2 separate regions of the Homo sapiens genome follow, and region 2 is linked to region 1. A link means that fine-mapping ties the variant in region 1 to the expression of a gene that starts in the linked region. Tissue or cell type: vagina. Region 1 holds a variant in brackets; the other region holds the start of a gene. All regions are shown on one strand. Distances are from middle to middle.

The links. PIP is the estimated chance that this variant, and not a neighbour inherited with it, causes the effect.
Region 2: it holds the start of PPP3CA, and the variant in region 1 is fine-mapped to the expression of PPP3CA in vagina (GTEx, PIP 0.90).

The regions. Positions count from the first base shown.
Region 1 is chr4:100,595,444-100,603,551 of GRCh38, forward strand. No RefSeq gene overlaps it. Among named protein-coding and RNA genes, the nearest start is that of LINC01216, 76 kb to the right of the region's middle. The variant G/C (reference allele first, on the strand shown) is at 4,699.
Region 2 is chr4:101,344,287-101,352,394 of GRCh38, forward strand. It overlaps PPP3CA (protein phosphatase 3 catalytic subunit alpha), which reads right to left and starts at 3,240. Exons shown (of 14, transcript NM_000944.5): 1 at 2,453-3,240. The coding sequence starts at 2,510. It overlaps PPP3CA-DT (PPP3CA divergent transcript), which reads left to right and starts at 3,491. Exons shown (of 2, transcript NR_033874.1): 1 at 3,491-3,723; 2 at 4,038-4,597. RefSeq lists silencers at 1,626-2,015, 2,036-2,395, 2,866-3,475.

The sequences.
Region 1 (8,108 bases):
GAAACAATGTGAGACAGGATTATAACTTGTGCATGAACCTGACAAGATGGGCCTTCCCTTACCAAGGCTGAGCTAACCTTACTCCTGCTGAATGCTCAACCTGCTGGCAGCAGAGACCAAGATTGAGCACTGTGGTTGCACTCCTCAGGGAGTCCAGTTAGCCATTTGGTAACAGATCAATTTTGTGTCTTTTCACTTTTAAAAGGGCAGTAATACATTCTTATAGAAATTATTTTATACAACTCCTGTGGGGTTGGGATACTAACTTCTGGAATGCACAATTATCTACCGAGCCACCTTACTTGAAAGAAAACTTTTGCCAATGCAAAATAAGTTACACCAAATTAGAGGTTGCAGCCACCATCTGGCCTTTTTTAAGGCAAAGACAGGAGTTACTATACTAGTGGGAGTAATCAAGCCCAATCACCATGAAGAAGCTAGGGTGGTTGCTACACATTGGACTTAGGGATGAGTATCTAGAATTCAAGGGATTAACTGTGTTGTCTCTTGGGACTCCTACATCAGTTGAAAACTATAAATGGGCAGTTGTAACAATAACAGCTTGACAAGGGCAAGACAACTATGGGCTGAGACCTCTTGGGGATGAAGATCTGGGTTTTCCCACTAGGCTGGCAGTCCACCAAGCAAGAATGTTAGCTGAGGATGAAAGAAATCTAAAGAGGGAGACAGTGGAGAAAGATGATGAGTATCACTTACAGACCAGGAACCAACTGCAACAGTGGGTACCAGAGCTTGCTTTGCTGACCCTTTTAAAGGCTTTTTTTGAAGGTTGAAATGTTGATAAATTAGATTTGTACATTACATCCCAGGGAGAAATGAGAGCATCTTTACCTTAGGAAAGACATGGATATATGTCATTAGAAGAATGAATGGATCTGAAAGGCAGTTTTTGTTTATGTGACACCCAAATTCATGCACTTGCTTTGCTTTTGGGCCAGAGTGAGCATTAGCAGCTGTTTACATCAGTTCCATGGTCCTGCAGCCAGATTTCCACTTGCTGCCACCATCTTCACTACAGACCTATAGCCTGCCTTGCAGATTACTCCTAGTTACTCCTATTGTTCACATGAATTCTCCAACAGTTCCTACATCACATCATGCCATGCACCTTTATCTCATATTCTGGCACTGCCCTGGTGCCACTGAGGTATGAGTTACCCCAAGGTTCACTTAGCATTTATGCACATGCAACCCAAGTGCTGGGATTATCAGGCGTGAGCCACTGCGCCCAGCCAGTCCTTTGTTTCTTTAAAACATTTTTAATTGCAATGTTTTGTTTTTCAATGAGTGCCTTGTGGAGTTTTTGTGGCATTTTAAAATTTTGGAATATGAGTTTATTGTTACAGTAATGCATTGCTAATATCTTCTGGTGCGCAGCTTGTCTTTTACTCTCTTTAAGGCAACTTTTAGTGAACAGAAGCACTTGATATTAATGAAGTCCAATTTACCAATTATTTTAATTGTTAGGATTTTGTGTTCCATCTAAAGCATCTTTGCCAACTCTAAGGTGAAGAATATCATCTCCTAAATTTTCTTTTAGATGTCTTATTTATTGCATTTCGTTTGAGGTAAAGCATTCATTTCAATTTTTTTAATACACTGGAAGGTAGGGGAACAGAGAGCTTCTTGGATCATGTTATTCGATGTGTTACATCAGTTTGAGAAATTCTGAGTCAGAGTTTCTTTAAAAACTCACTCTCTTCCATTTTCTCTCTCCAATTATACATGTTAGATTTTATCACATGCCGAATGTTTCCTACTTATACTGCTTCCTGTATTTTTAATGTATTTTTCTTCTCTATGGATCATTTTGAAGACTTTGCAAGGAGTTTCGCAAGAAACTGCCAAACCATCTTCCAAAGTAGCTGTACCATTTTGATTCCCACCAGCAGTGAATGGGAGTTTCTGTTCCTCCACATTCTCCGCAATAGTGTTTTGGATTGGGCTATTCTAATAGGTGTGGAGTGGTAGCTCATTCTTGCTTTAATTTGCAATTCCCTAGTGACATGTGATGTTGAACATCTTTTCATATGCTGATTTGTCATCTGTATATCTTCTTTGGTGGGGCGTCTGTTCAGGTCTTTACCATTTTTTTGCATTATTAATTTTCTTCTTGTTAAATTTTCAGAGTTCTTTGTATGTTTTGGACAAAAATCTTTTATTACATATCTTTTGCAAATATTTCCTCCCAGTCTATGGCTTGCCATCATTTTCTTGGCATTTTAATCATTTTTAAGCCTATAGTTCAGTTGCATTAAATCCATTCATATTATTGTGCCACCATCACACCAGAGCTTTTTCACTTTTCCAAACTGAAACTCTGTATTCATTCAAAAATAACTCTCCATTTCTTCCCACTGGCCCACGGCAACCACCATTCTATTTTCTGTCTTTATAAATTTGGCTATTCTAGGTACCTCCTATAAGTGGAATCAGATATTTGCCCTATAGTGACTGGCTTATTTCACTTAGCATAGTATCTTCAAGGTATATTCATGTTGTAGCATGTGTCAGAATTTCCCTCCTCTTTAAGGATAAATAATATTTCATTGCAAGTTTGTACCATATTTTTTATCTTTTTATCCACCTATGGACACTTGCATTGCTTCCATCTTTTGGCTGTTATGAATGATGCTTCTATGAACATAGGTGTATAAATATCTGTTCGAGTCCCTGTTCAATTAACTTTATAAAATAATTTTTGATAAGTGACAACTATGTTATATTTTATTCTTTTTCCAAATTGTTCATTCTCAAGTTAAATTCACATTGTAACCATTTACATATTTAGGTTTTATTTCATTTCTCTATACTTGCCAATGTTTACCCTTACTATGTTATCATTATGAAAAATTTAAATGTTAACAAAAATAATGTAAAACTATTATATTTTGCAAAGGTGCTACATTGTAGCACCTTTTTGTGAACTACTTCATTTTGCTCTTACAGCAATTCCATTTGGAGTTTATAATTTTTACTTTATGTATCATCTTTCTTTAATTCTCTTGCTTAGAAGAAACAACTACTCATTGGTCAAATGATGAGCAACATATGTTGCAACAAATTTCAAAGCCATTCTTGCACCATTTTAAAAATATCCTGTGAAAAAGACAATATAATCAGAGAAAGGATGAAGAGGCCTGGATGACCAGTCTGATGTTAAAGGACAGCACAGGTAGTGAGGTGGGTCTGGATAGCCAGAATGTCATTTTCAGGAAGCATTGGATTCAGGCAAAGATCTAAAGAGTTAAACAGAGCAAGACCTCAGGGACGTGTTCCATCAGCAGAATGGCATGTATAGAAAAAGACATTTAGGCAGGTCTGATAGACAATGCCTTAGCCTCTGGAAAGATTAGAGAATAAGGCAAGAACCTAGCCTCTTGGAGCTGGGATACTAGAAGGGAAACAATCAAGAAATTGGGAATAAACAATGCTCTGGTCTAAATGTTTGTGTCCTTTCCAAATTCATGTGTTGACACCTAATTTCTAATGCAATGGTATTAAAAGGTGAGGCCTTTGGGAAGTGATTAGGTCATGAAAGTGGACCCCCAACACACACACTCCATGAATGGGATTAGTCCCCTCATAAAAGAGGCCCGAGGAAGCCTGTTTTCCCCCTTCTGCCATGTCAGCACACACAGATGGCATCATCTATGAGGAACACATGCTTACTAGACACTGGAATCTACTCGTACCTTGATCTTGTACTTCCCAGCCTCTAGAACTGCAAACGATCCATTTCTATTGTTTATAAATTATCAAGGCATTTTGTTACAGCAGTCTAACAAACTAAGACCAATAACAAGATAGAGACTATTTACTTATCTGTCTCCCCTATTGGACTGTAAGTAAGCTACATGAAGGCTGGCGCAGTCTGAGTAAGGCAATAGCAAAGCTGATGAAACTTGGGGTCCTTTTATTTATCTTTTTTTATTGATTGAAGGTTGTAGAAGTGGGCTAAATCTCCAGAGGGCATTAAAATGACTTTGCAGTGACTATTAAATGACCACAGGAACAAATATTCAAGCATGTATATTCCATTACATAATTTTTGTTCAATTTGGGGGGTTCAGGGGAAGCTATAGAATTCTATGCTGCTATAGATTTTTCATGCCCTCCCTCTTCGAGATTATTTCTCTGTGCAGATGAATAAAAATCTTCTTGTATTTGACAGGAATATGCCCCCACCACTTTATATGTGCATTAAGGAAATGTTACAATTTAAATAATAGCTGTGGTTACATTATTCTCAAATATCTCTATAAGAAGGAAATGATTTATGCAATTTATCATTTATCTAATCTATTTTAAAGAATATGAATGTGCAAGATGTTTAAAAATGTAGGAGTCAAAAGTAGAGGAAAAGAGAACAGATCAAGAAAAAGGAGAATAGATTCATAGTGTAATAAGGGAATCATTTAGATTTATATTTTTTAAGTTGGTTCAAGTCAAGAAAACAAATAAGATTATCTCGTGTATAACATCCTAATATTGCATTTAATTGAGAAAAGAACAAAAGACTCAACACAGGTTACCAAAAAATGTCCATTGTCTCCAGGAGATATGTGGAAAACCCTTGGAATACAAAGGATACACTTAAAACCAACATATGAGAACTGAAACTCCATGTTGGTAAAAGAAAATAATTTTAGGTAATTTTTAAAACAGCCTCTAAGA[G/C]TTTAAGTTTAGAATCATGGTTTTGTAAAGCATTCATTAGGCATTATAGACAAATTATGTTATTGAAGAACTATTTTGAAATTGTTTTGCTTCAATATTTTTAAAAGTTAGGTCTTGCAATAGTCTGAGAAAAATGCGACTTACTTCTATAAAAATGAACACAGTCAGAAATCACGAAGTAAAATCACTTCAGACTAGTAGACAGCAACAACAACAACAAAAAACAGTTGAAGGTAGACAGAAAACATCATAGATATTTGAACAATCCTAGAAACTGCCTGGAAAATCTACTCTTAATAGGGAAAAGACTACTCTTTTGAGCATTATGCATAGATATATTGCAACTTTTTCCCCTCTCCTCTAAAAAGTAGGGAAAGATATGAGAATTTAAAAGCTGAAAGTAATTCTAAGAAACCCAATTAGCACATTTACTTTTCTTCTTATGATGAAAAAGATTAAATATTTTGCATTAAAAAGAAAGTGAAATTTTAAATTGAGAACTATCTCCACGCCTTTTGATATCAAATTGACAGAAGAGTCAAGTTGAAGCTTGAGGCATTTTAGTGTCCTAGATGAAATTTTGACCTTAAGAAAAATTTTAGGCCAGGCGCAGTGGCTCACGCCTGTAATTCCAGCACTTTGGGAGGCCGAGGCGGGTGGATCACGAGGTCAGGAGATCGAGACCATCCTGGCTAACACGGTGAAACCCCGTCTCTACTAAAAATACAAAAAATTAGCCGGGCAAGGTGGCGGGCGCCGGTAATCCCAGCTACGCGGGAGGCTGAGGCAGGAGAATGGCGTGAACCCTGAGGGGCGGAGCCTGCAGTGAGCCGAGATAGCGCCACTGCACTCCAGCCTGGGAGACAGCGAGACCCCATCTCAAAAAAAAAAAAAAAAAAAAGAAAAATTTTAGATTGACATTACAGTGTTCTGTTTGAAACCATAATTTAATTAAAAGGAGATGGTGCACAGGTAAAAATTGGTAAGAAAGACAATTTATTTCACCTACAATCTATTTCATAAAACCTCTAAATTTTTTTCAAAGTGAAATAATATAATATGTTAGTAAGTATAAGGATTTTAACATATTTTTATTATTTATTATTTAAATTTGGGGAAAGAGCTGACTTTTAACATGGTGAACCCCATCTATAGGAAATTCTGACCATTTATACCATAGAATAGTATCTTATAATCCAGGCCATATTCCTTACATACATGGAGGTGGTAGCTTAATAAAATTTCAGGTATATGTCTGGAAAAATATAGGATAGCTTCTGGAAAATGAACCCTAAATTATCAAATATATATAATTGCACATGGGCTGAAAACACATCTTCTCTCATTGACTCACTGACAGTTTGCAAAAAGTCATGAACTGTGAAAACTCTTCAGTTCTGACTCAACAGGCTGACCATGGACAAATCACATAGTCTTTTAGTCCTCTACTTCTTAACTAATAAAATGGGCATAACCACAACTGCCTCCATAGTTTTGATAGGAGAAATGAATAAGATTGTGTCGTAAACACGTTGCACAATTCCATTACAGAAAGGGTTCAGTAAATGTCAATTACCATTTTCTTTTACCATCAAAAATCTTACCATGCATTTACACAAGAGCTTTTGAACAGCAGTGATGTTAATATTTAGTTAGACAGAATCCACCATTCTGGAAGGAATATAATGATGGTTACTTGTGTGAGTCCCCTGATTCAATTTATTCTTCAAAGGGGAAAGCTAATGATTCAAAGCACATCTCAGCTTATCAACAGCAGCAGTAAGATTTCCACTGGAGCATTTCTACCCAATGATTGGAGGTCAGTTTTCTCACCAGAATCAAGACTGCTCTAAAATGGTCCATCTTCTTCAAGACTATTAGAGATATAATATTCATTTATTCATTTCCTTAATAGACCTGCTCATAAGAAGGCTGAATTCTTATTGCCTCAATAGCTTTTCATACATTGTGAGACAAGTTTTACAACATTAAAACTAAAACATGCTCTAGGTCAACACTTGCCTATAAATACTTCGTAGCTACTTATGCTTTGCTGTCAACTTAAATGTAGTTTATAAGCAACCTTGATACTTGCTCTTTTCCTTATTACACAAAGGTGAGATCCACCTAAAGACAAATTTAATGCAATATAACTCCTCTCTCTAACCCAATTTTTGTTTTTACCGTCTCCTCAAACATTTACACCATGCTTTCTGAAACCTCGTTTCAGGTCAAATTATTTTATATATTTTCATAATTTATTTTATTTTTACAATTATTTTCTGCAACACTAAACCTTAAAAACCCTGGCTCTTCCCATGAACATAGCACATTTTTCAGCCCCTTACTTTCTCATATTTTCTTACATCTCATAATTACCTTTTCTTTCATTACTGCCTATATACAATGTATGCTCCTAAATTCTACTAAAAACTATTTTTTAAGGCTGATACTTGGCTCTACCAATCTCTATCTCACCTTAGTTATTTCTACTCAACCATCTGCTGGCTATATCTATACTTTGAATTTGTTGAATTTGGCTCACAGTTTTGTTTTTCAGCCCAAACCCTACCTTCATCCTTGATATTTTCTATGTATTAAGATACAGCTTTTTTTTTTTTGGTGGGGGCGGGGAGTGGGGAGCTTTCTAGGTTTTTCATAACCTGGTCATAACACAGGCTTCCTTTTCTTTTCTTTCCTTTTCTTTTCTTTTTTGAGATGGAGTTTCACTCTCGTTGCCCAGGCTGGAGTGCAATGGCACGATCTCAGCTCACCGCAACCTCCGCCTCCCAGGTTCAAGCAATTCTCCTGCCTCAGCCTCCCAAGTAGCTAGGATCACAGGCATGCATCACCACACCCAGCTAATTTTGTATTTTTAGTAGAGACCCGGTTTCTCCATGTTGGTCAGGCTGGTCTCGAACTCCCAACCTCAGGTGATCTGCCCACGTTGGCCTCCCAAAGTGCTAGGATTACAGGCGTGAGCCACCACGCCCAGCCAGAGGCTTCATTTTCTTAGCGGCAGTTCTGCCATTTGATTCATTGTCTCTATGCATCCTGACTTCCTCTCCTTTTCCAGGCACATAACCACCCCCATAGCTTTCATCTTTTAGCTTGCCTAAAACATAGTATCTTAGCCTGAAACCCAAATCTTTAATAGAGATAAGTTATTCAACTCCAAACAGGAAACACATAATCAAATCGCAGAAGGGTTGAGGGTGGGCAGAATCAGGTAGTAAACAAGGAGTGTAGTTCTTTGAAAACAGATTGTCCTAAGGAAGAAATACAACTCAGATAAGATCAGCTACAGTGCCACTTCTCTGCTAAAGATTTTTCATTTTCCCATCTTTGTAGCATTCAGGATATGTCTACATTTCTTAGAGTAAAATGCAAAGCCCTTTGTTATCTGGCCA
Region 2 (8,108 bases), 750 kb after region 1:
TCACAGAAAGCTAATAATCAAAATAGATTATCTCAAATAACTAATAATAAAAATCTTATGTATGACAAAAGGTTGAATCCAACCTTGTATAATGCCTTTCATGCCAATAATATTCTACAAGAAAACAGGATAAACAATAACAGTGTATCCACCTTAAAATCAGGATTCATCAACAAAACTTCTATAAACAAAATTTCACATTTCACATCTCACATCAGGATCTCTATCAAAACAAATGCAAAATTAACTTTTCCTATTTTGAGTCTACTATCCACATAGTATGTGAATAAAATTTTTTAAATTATGGGTGAGTGTGTGTACCTAAAATGAAAAGTCATTTATAATGGTACAGTATTGAAAAAAAGCAAGGCAAAGTAGCCTTGGAATGGTTGAGTGGGCTCTTCCATTTTAAGCAGTAGAGAAACTAAGCCAGAAAGTATAAACATTTATTTTTACATGTTCACCTGATGACTTTACACCTACATTAAGAATCCACATCCTATGATTTAAAACAGGGAATGTGACCTTATGTGTGCACAAGTGTTTTTTTAATTGCCAACACGTTCACTAGTATCATTTGAATTATAAGCTTTACATTGTTTTGATCTTAACCTAGATTGGAGCTACATCTAAACTTCACACATTAAGGAGATAATTGTCATTCTCTGATATTTCTGCAAAGGGTCTCAATTTTTGAAAATGTCAACAGAAGCCTTTCATGCAAAACACAGCTCTCTCAAATAAATGTGAATGGACTGTTTCCATGAAAATCCATGCCTGCAGGAAAAATAAAATAGCTGTGCATCTCTCTGCAGCCCTATTTCGAATCATTTTTGCAGAGCTATTTCCTCATTATTTTCATGGGTATATGAATCCTGCACCGAAGCTGAAGCAGGAATGATTCCAGTAAAACCAAAACAAAAGAAGATATTTTGTTCTTTCTGAAAAAAGGGAACGTAATTTCCCCCATCACCACCACCACTCACACAGAAAAATTACTTTAAAAACTGAGTAAACCTCTAAGGAGAAAGAATCATTTCTGAAACCCCAGAGGGACTTGTGTATCATGGTCTTTGGGCTGCTGGGTTACTTCACTTTTAAGTGCTCATGGTGCAAACGACTTGATTGCCTTGCACTCTAGTTGCATGCTCTGGCCACATTAGATACCATCTCTGTTCTACACACAACACACACACATTACACCAGCCAGTGCTGTTTCCAATTTCAGAGGCCCGCTCCCCGCACAGCTCATGCCCATCTCTGCTTTGCTTGGTGTCCTGACCCCCAGGAATGTGAGATACTACTTAATCCAAGTGGTTCTGCTCTGTTGCCTCAGCCTTCCAGGATTCATAGGATGGTTCCTCCCCCACTACACCTAGGAATACAAGGAGGCCGATAGATTCCCGTGCGACAGAGTGATCAACCACAGCCTGTCCCCTTCCTCACTCCGCACATCCCAGTTTCTCTTTGCCAGCAACCTCAGTGCATCCTTGCCAGGAGTTTATCATCCCGTAGGCGGCGAAGAGGAGGCAATAATAGGAATCCAACAGCCCGTTACAAAAAGGATGCCAGGGCACGGAGGAAGCAGGCGGAATGAGGTTATCACTTGGGAGGTGTGCACGAGTGGAGAACCCTTTAAGAGCAATGACAGGTCGGCGGGGGACAGCCGGGGATGGCAAGAGAGGCTGGAGAAGTGGTTTTCGTGTCTCTCCCCGGGGCGTGCGGGGGAAATCCCGGGGCGGCAACGGCTGGTGCTCTCAGGTCGTTCCCCGCCTCCCGCGCCCCCCGCGGCCACCCTCCAGCCAGCGACCGCCCCCGCCCCCGCCCCGCGCGGAAGGAAGCGCCGGGCTCCCCCCACGCTCTCCCGCTCTCTCGCGAGTCCTGTGCAGGCCCTTCCAGGGGGAGGGGGAGGGGGAGGGGGGCGCGGAGGGAATTGCTGCAATGGAGCTCCAAGACAACCCTGCCCAAGTGAGGCAGTCGGTGGAAAGCCACGGCCACATAAAAATGCCGTATTAATTTTTAAAAAGCCATCAATCACCCCTCCCTCTGCAGAAGAAAACCATAAACCCGATCCCATGCAAGCCTGTGAGCAGAGCCACCCACTTCCTATTTCTGTCACAGCAGCTACACCCTACCAGCAACCACCCCCCGGGCGCCCCCTCCCACCACCGCCACCCCCGCCGCCACCTCCCCGCGGCTCAGCCATTTGCCAACTGACGCCCCCGTCAATAAAAATGCCCCAAGTGAGGCTGGGTGGGACGCGTGGGGGAAGGGCGCCGCGGGGGCGGGGGGTTCGCGGGGTTCGCGGGTTGCACAATATCCTAGAAGGTCCGCGGCTGGAGCGGACAGAGGAGAACCTGGGGCGGGGGAGGGGAGGAAAGGCGAGGCGAGGCAAGCTGCCCTGGCGCCTGCGGCACACGGTGCACCCAGGCCACCGCGGCGCTCCGCTTACCTTTCACCACCCTGTCGGTCGTCGACAACTTGGGATCAATTGCCTTGGGCTCGGACATCTCCAGCTGCCGGAGGACAGCGACGCGCTGCTCGTCCGTCCGACTGCACACCCCGACCGGACCGGCGGGCCAGACACTCAACGCCGCCGCCGCCGCCGCCGCCGCCGCGCTGCAAACCGCTCGGCTGGAGGTCTAGGCTCTGAGCTGGCTTTAAAGTTGCTGCCTTTTCCGCGCGTCCCTCCTCCGCCGCCGCCGCCTTCACTCCTCCTCCGCCGCTGCCGCCAGCCCCGCCGACTCGCTCCGGGCTGCGCGTGTGTGGTGGTTATTTATTTATTTTCTGAGCACGCCTCCCGGTTCTTCTTTTATTCTTGGGGGAAGGGGGATGGGGAGGAGAAGCGCACACACGAGCACCCACCCCGGCACGGAGACCCAGCACCGCGGAATGGAGCCCCACGCGCGCACACACGGCCAGGATTAAGACCGATCACATGGGGAAGGCCGGGGGCGAGGGAGGAGAGGCAGGGCCGCCGATGTCAGTGCCACCAGCCGCACCTTGGCGTCCCCGGCGGCGGAGAGGCGGCCGCCGCTGCTGCCGCTGCTGCTGCCGCTGCCGCTGTTGCTGCTGCCGCTGCCCCTGCTTCTCCACACAGAGCGCCGCCGCTGGTGCCGCGGCCGCCGGAGACGTCCCGCCGCCGCGATCGCCCGCGCTCGCCTCTGCCTCCCCGCGCCGCTCCTCCACTCACCAAGGCACAGCCGCCGAGCTCGGCAGACACAGTCCCGGGCACAACCTACCCCCCTCCGCCGCCGCCGCCGCCGCCAACACCGCGCCCGCCTCCGCCTCCTCCCCTTCCTCCTCCCGGCCCCCGCCTCTTGCGCGCCTGCAGCCTCCTCCTCCCCACTGAGCCCGCCCCCGACCTCCCGCCCCGACGCCGGAGTTCCTCGCGTTCATTGGCTAGAGGGCGCATCACTCAGTGCCAGGTGGCGGCCTCCCCGCTTGTCCCGCCTCCCGCTCCTCCTCATTGTCCCCGCCCCTTGCTCTGTTTTCTTCCAGCTGCCGGACCAGCGGGCCTGCCGCCTCTACGGACCAGTCCCTGCTCAGGTGTCACTTTTGCTGGCAGGCCGAGATTAGGGCAGGAGAGTGGGCAAGGCGTCGCGGCCAGGAGGAGAAGGGCTCTACCACGCCACCCTCCTTTGGCCTCCGAACGCGGACCCCGCACACACACACCCGCGCCTCTTTGGCAAGCGTGCCTTGTCGGCTGGGTTAAGCCGCAGTGTGAGTAGCCAAGTGCAGAGGGTGTCTCCGGGTGTGTGCGTGGCCCACAAGAGGGCAAGAAGAGAGAAGGCGGGGATAGGAGGGAAGAGGGTGGGGGTGAGAGGCAGCCCTGAGAGGGCGGAGGAAGGAAGAGGCTGGGAGCTCGGCGCCCGCGGCGCAGCTGCCGTCGCTGCCGCAGCTGTCCAGGGAGGATCGCCAAAACGGCGACGAATAAACAACTTACCTTGCGGAGAAGAGCTACGACTGCGATGCGGTGTACGGTTGTTTTTGCTTTTGCGTTGGCGGCTTAGGGGCTGTTACTGTGTCCCACCCAGGCGTGCACACCGAGCGGCGGGGCGCTGTGGAACGCGGGAGCGGACTAGCGGAGGAGGATGCGGACCAAGCCCCAGCGACCCAGGGCAACTCGGAGCTACCTCGGGCAGCCCTGCGGGTCTCCGAGGAGAACCGAGGAGACGGGAGAAACATGGGAGAGGGTGGCCTTTTCCCTGTTCACACACACATGCACGCAGCCACTGGCCGGGACAGTTGACACCCATCTTCCTTCCCTGCTCCTTCCAGTCATTCTACACCCGCTTGGTGCTGCCAGTGCGGGCAGGGCCTTGGAGCCCAAAGCGGATCCCCACACTTGTCCCTACGGTCGGAAGGAAAGTAGAGGAGAGAAAGTCAGGCGCGGCAGGGCTAAGAGCAATAGTGGCCCAAATGTTCCTGGCCCGCCTGCTGCGCCACAGAGTCTGAAAAGCGGGTCTCCGTCTACCAGAAGGTGACCTCCACACAGCCCCTCTCCCCGACCAACTGCAGCACCCAAGGACTGGCAACGTGGTTGGAGCTTTTGGGGGGAATTATGAAGAAATCTGAATAAATTTCTCACCCTTCATGTTTCCTGTTTTATTTCCAAAGTCCTTCAGTATCAGGTTTTTCCTATTTCCTCAATTGGACCACGGGTCCAATAAAAGGTTTAAAATACACACACACACACACACACACACACACACACACAAAGAAAACAAAAACAAAAAAAAAAGTTTAGGGAGCTGGGAGATGAAGCCAAAAGAAATGTTTTGGAGACAAGGATTAGATTAAAGCTCAAACTTGAAAATCAATTTTGAGTAAGAGACTGATTGTGCTGCAGCGTGACTTTGATGTGGACTGCACGGAATAGAAACACACACTAGATACCTCTGTGGAGGCCTAGCAAAAGGAGCAGACGCAGGGTGTGTCCCACCAAGATAGGGAGGCTGCCACTGGCACTGAGATTCTGCTGCCCAATTTCCAACCCCAGGATACTGGGTGGCAATTAGACAATTCATTCAATAAAGATATTTTCTGTACTCCTTTTATTTATATGCCAGACTTTGTGGTGGGTAATTAGGTGGGGAGGGAGTGTATTTGAAAATTGTCCTTGCCCTCAATAAAGCCTAAAATTTTCAGAGAACATAAAATTATGAGCTCTGAGAGGTCACTGTAATCTCAGGAAGGGGTTGTTGGAAACAGCCTCCTGAGCACGGGCAGAGCTAGTTGCTAAGGCAGATTTGGGAAGTTGGTCCCTGGCCAGATGGCACACAGGGAGCGATGCCAAGACCTGTGGGTGAAGAGGGCCTGCTTCAGAAAGACCAGGAAACCATGTCCAGGGATGCTCATTTCCAAGGCCAAGACATTCTCTCCTACATATTAGAAAAAAATGAAGTTCCCACCTTTATTTGGAATAACTTTTTACTAGGTATAGGATAAACATCTTTGAACCAAGATCAGAAGGCTTAAAATGTCAGCACCATATAAAATTACATGATACAGATAGGAAATAAAGGCACACCTTTCAGGCACACCCTTTAGTCCGCTACAAGTCTAGGACACCTCCTAGCTAAGGTATGTATGGGAAGAAAAAGTTATGACTCACAATCACTTCCCAACACATTATCAACATGAACTTTTAATGCCTGTGTATGATTCCATAACTGCTGCAACACTGACACCTCTTAAACAAAATTGGATCCTGCTCTAAGGAAACAGGACGGCAGCATATTAACTAGGGACTACTTGTGTTCATACACCTGACCTCCTGAAGTAGACAGACAGATCATCTTTTTTATTCGGTTACTGTTTCAGATGTCCTACCCTCTCCTACTGCCATTCTTTTTCTGTCCTGTCCAGAGATCCCCAACCTTTTTGGCACCAGGGACTGGTTTCGCGGAAGACAATTTTCCCATGGATGGTGGTTGGGGGTGGTTTCAGGATAAAACTGTTCCACCTCAGATCGTCAAGCATTAGATTCTCATAAGGAGCGGGCAAGCTAGATCCCTTGCATGCACGGTTCACAGTAAGGTTTGCACTCCTATGGGAATCTAATGCCACTGCTGATCTGACAGGAGGTAGAGCTCAGGCAGTAATGTTTGCTCACTCTGCTGCAGATCTCCTGCTGTACAGTCCAGTTCCTAATAGGCCACAGACTGGTACTGTTCTGTGGCCCAGGGGTTGGGAACCTCCGTGTTAGACTGCCCTAGCAGTCCATAATTATATTACTGCTTGCATGAGAATACTTTATATTTGGAATTTACATTTTGAAGGGGTTACTTCAGTTCCCAGATGCTGACTTTGGCAATGTCCTGCTTATCAAGAAATAGGAGGGGGGAAAAGCTTGAAAAAAGACAACTTTTTGTCTACCAAAAAAATGTGTTTTCCCTCCCTTAGTATAATTCACTCTGGGAAGTGTCTGCCCAGAGAGGGATTCCCATTTCTAGCCTGACCCTTCTTTCCTCGAAGAAGGTCCATGTGACCAGTTCTGATCAATGGACTGTGGACTAAGATGGTTGGTCACTCTCAGGACAAGGCAGTTAAGCAGTAGATATACATTTTCTAGTCTATGGGCTCCCATCCTTAGCGGAATGCAGAGACTTCTAAGACCCAGGGCAGGCAGAACCCCAGAGACAAAGACGAGAGTCCCTTAATTACCACATAGAGGAATACTACCCAGTTACTAAGAAAATAGGCATTAGGCTTTACTCATTTATTGTGTTACTCCATTACAATGTGGAGATATGTTTGTTAGACTAGTTAATATTACCAAATTAATATACGAAAGTAATATGTTAGTTCCAAAAGTACATTCCTTAGCAAAACCTAGAATTATTGTTTTACTGTAATATAAGAGAACTACCAGAAGACTAAAAATACTCTTACTTCTTTTAATACATGAGCATCAAATCTTAATTCTCTGTTAATGAATATTCTTTGACCACACCTGTTCTGTGCCCTATGCTACATGATGCATAAAATGTAGGGAGTAAAGAAGGATTCAGAGATTTTGTTCCTTCATTCAAGGATTTAAAAGTCTTGTTATATGATCATTAGATATATATTATATTTGCAAACATTTATGTATAAGGTGCTACTTCCTCTTTCTATTGGAGAAGAAAAACTATTAGATTTATCAAAAGTAATTATGAAGATAAATATGTGGGCAAAAAAAGAAAATATTGTGGATTTGGAGTCATCTGTGCATTTAAGTGCTCCACAGAGCAAGCTTCCATTGGTGCAAATCACAGTAAATTAAGTACATTTTAGTATACTATTAAGTGCTTTATCAGATGTTTTAGTTTTAAAAATAAAATAAAATATTGTATGTTATATTCTGTTTTGAAAATAACAGGCTTTCAAAATTTTGAACTTGTATTTGGTTCTTGGATGAATTTATTATCATTTGGACATTACGGTTGAGTAGTAACTTCTGATTATGGCTGGGCATGGTGGCTTACGCCTGTAATCCCAGCACTTTGGGAGGCCGAGGCAGGTGGATCACGAGCTCAGGAGTTCGAGACCAGCCTGCCCAATATGGTGAAACCCCGTCTCTACTAAAAATACAAAAATTAACCAGGCGTGGTGGTGTGTGCCTGTAGTCCCAGCTACTCGGGAGGATGAGACAGAAGAATTGCTTGAACTCAGGAAGCAGAGATTGCATTGAGCTGCAATCATGCCACTGCACTCCAGCTTCGGTGACAGAGTGAGACTCCATCTCAAAAAAAAATAAAAATAAAAAAAAACTTCTGATTATGACTCTTCTGAGGCATTCACTTTTTTCTGAGTAGCTGATGGTAGACAGCAGTATGTCTGCTCTATCCTCACTTAAGTTAGTGGAGCACAATGCTGAGGAACCTGCAAAGTAGGACAGTCAATCCTGATAGGGCCATGAATGTATATGAGACTTTGATTTATTATCTTAAAGCTAATTCCTGTGACATTTCCTTCTCACATTTTCTAGTTCTACCCTACTTCCATAGAGGTTCTATGAAATATGCTATTCTACATAGATCTAATTTGAGGTTCAAACTAAAAGGAAGTTTTATTACCTATTTTTTTATTGCTCTTGAAATTTTGTTGAGCCTTGTTTCTTT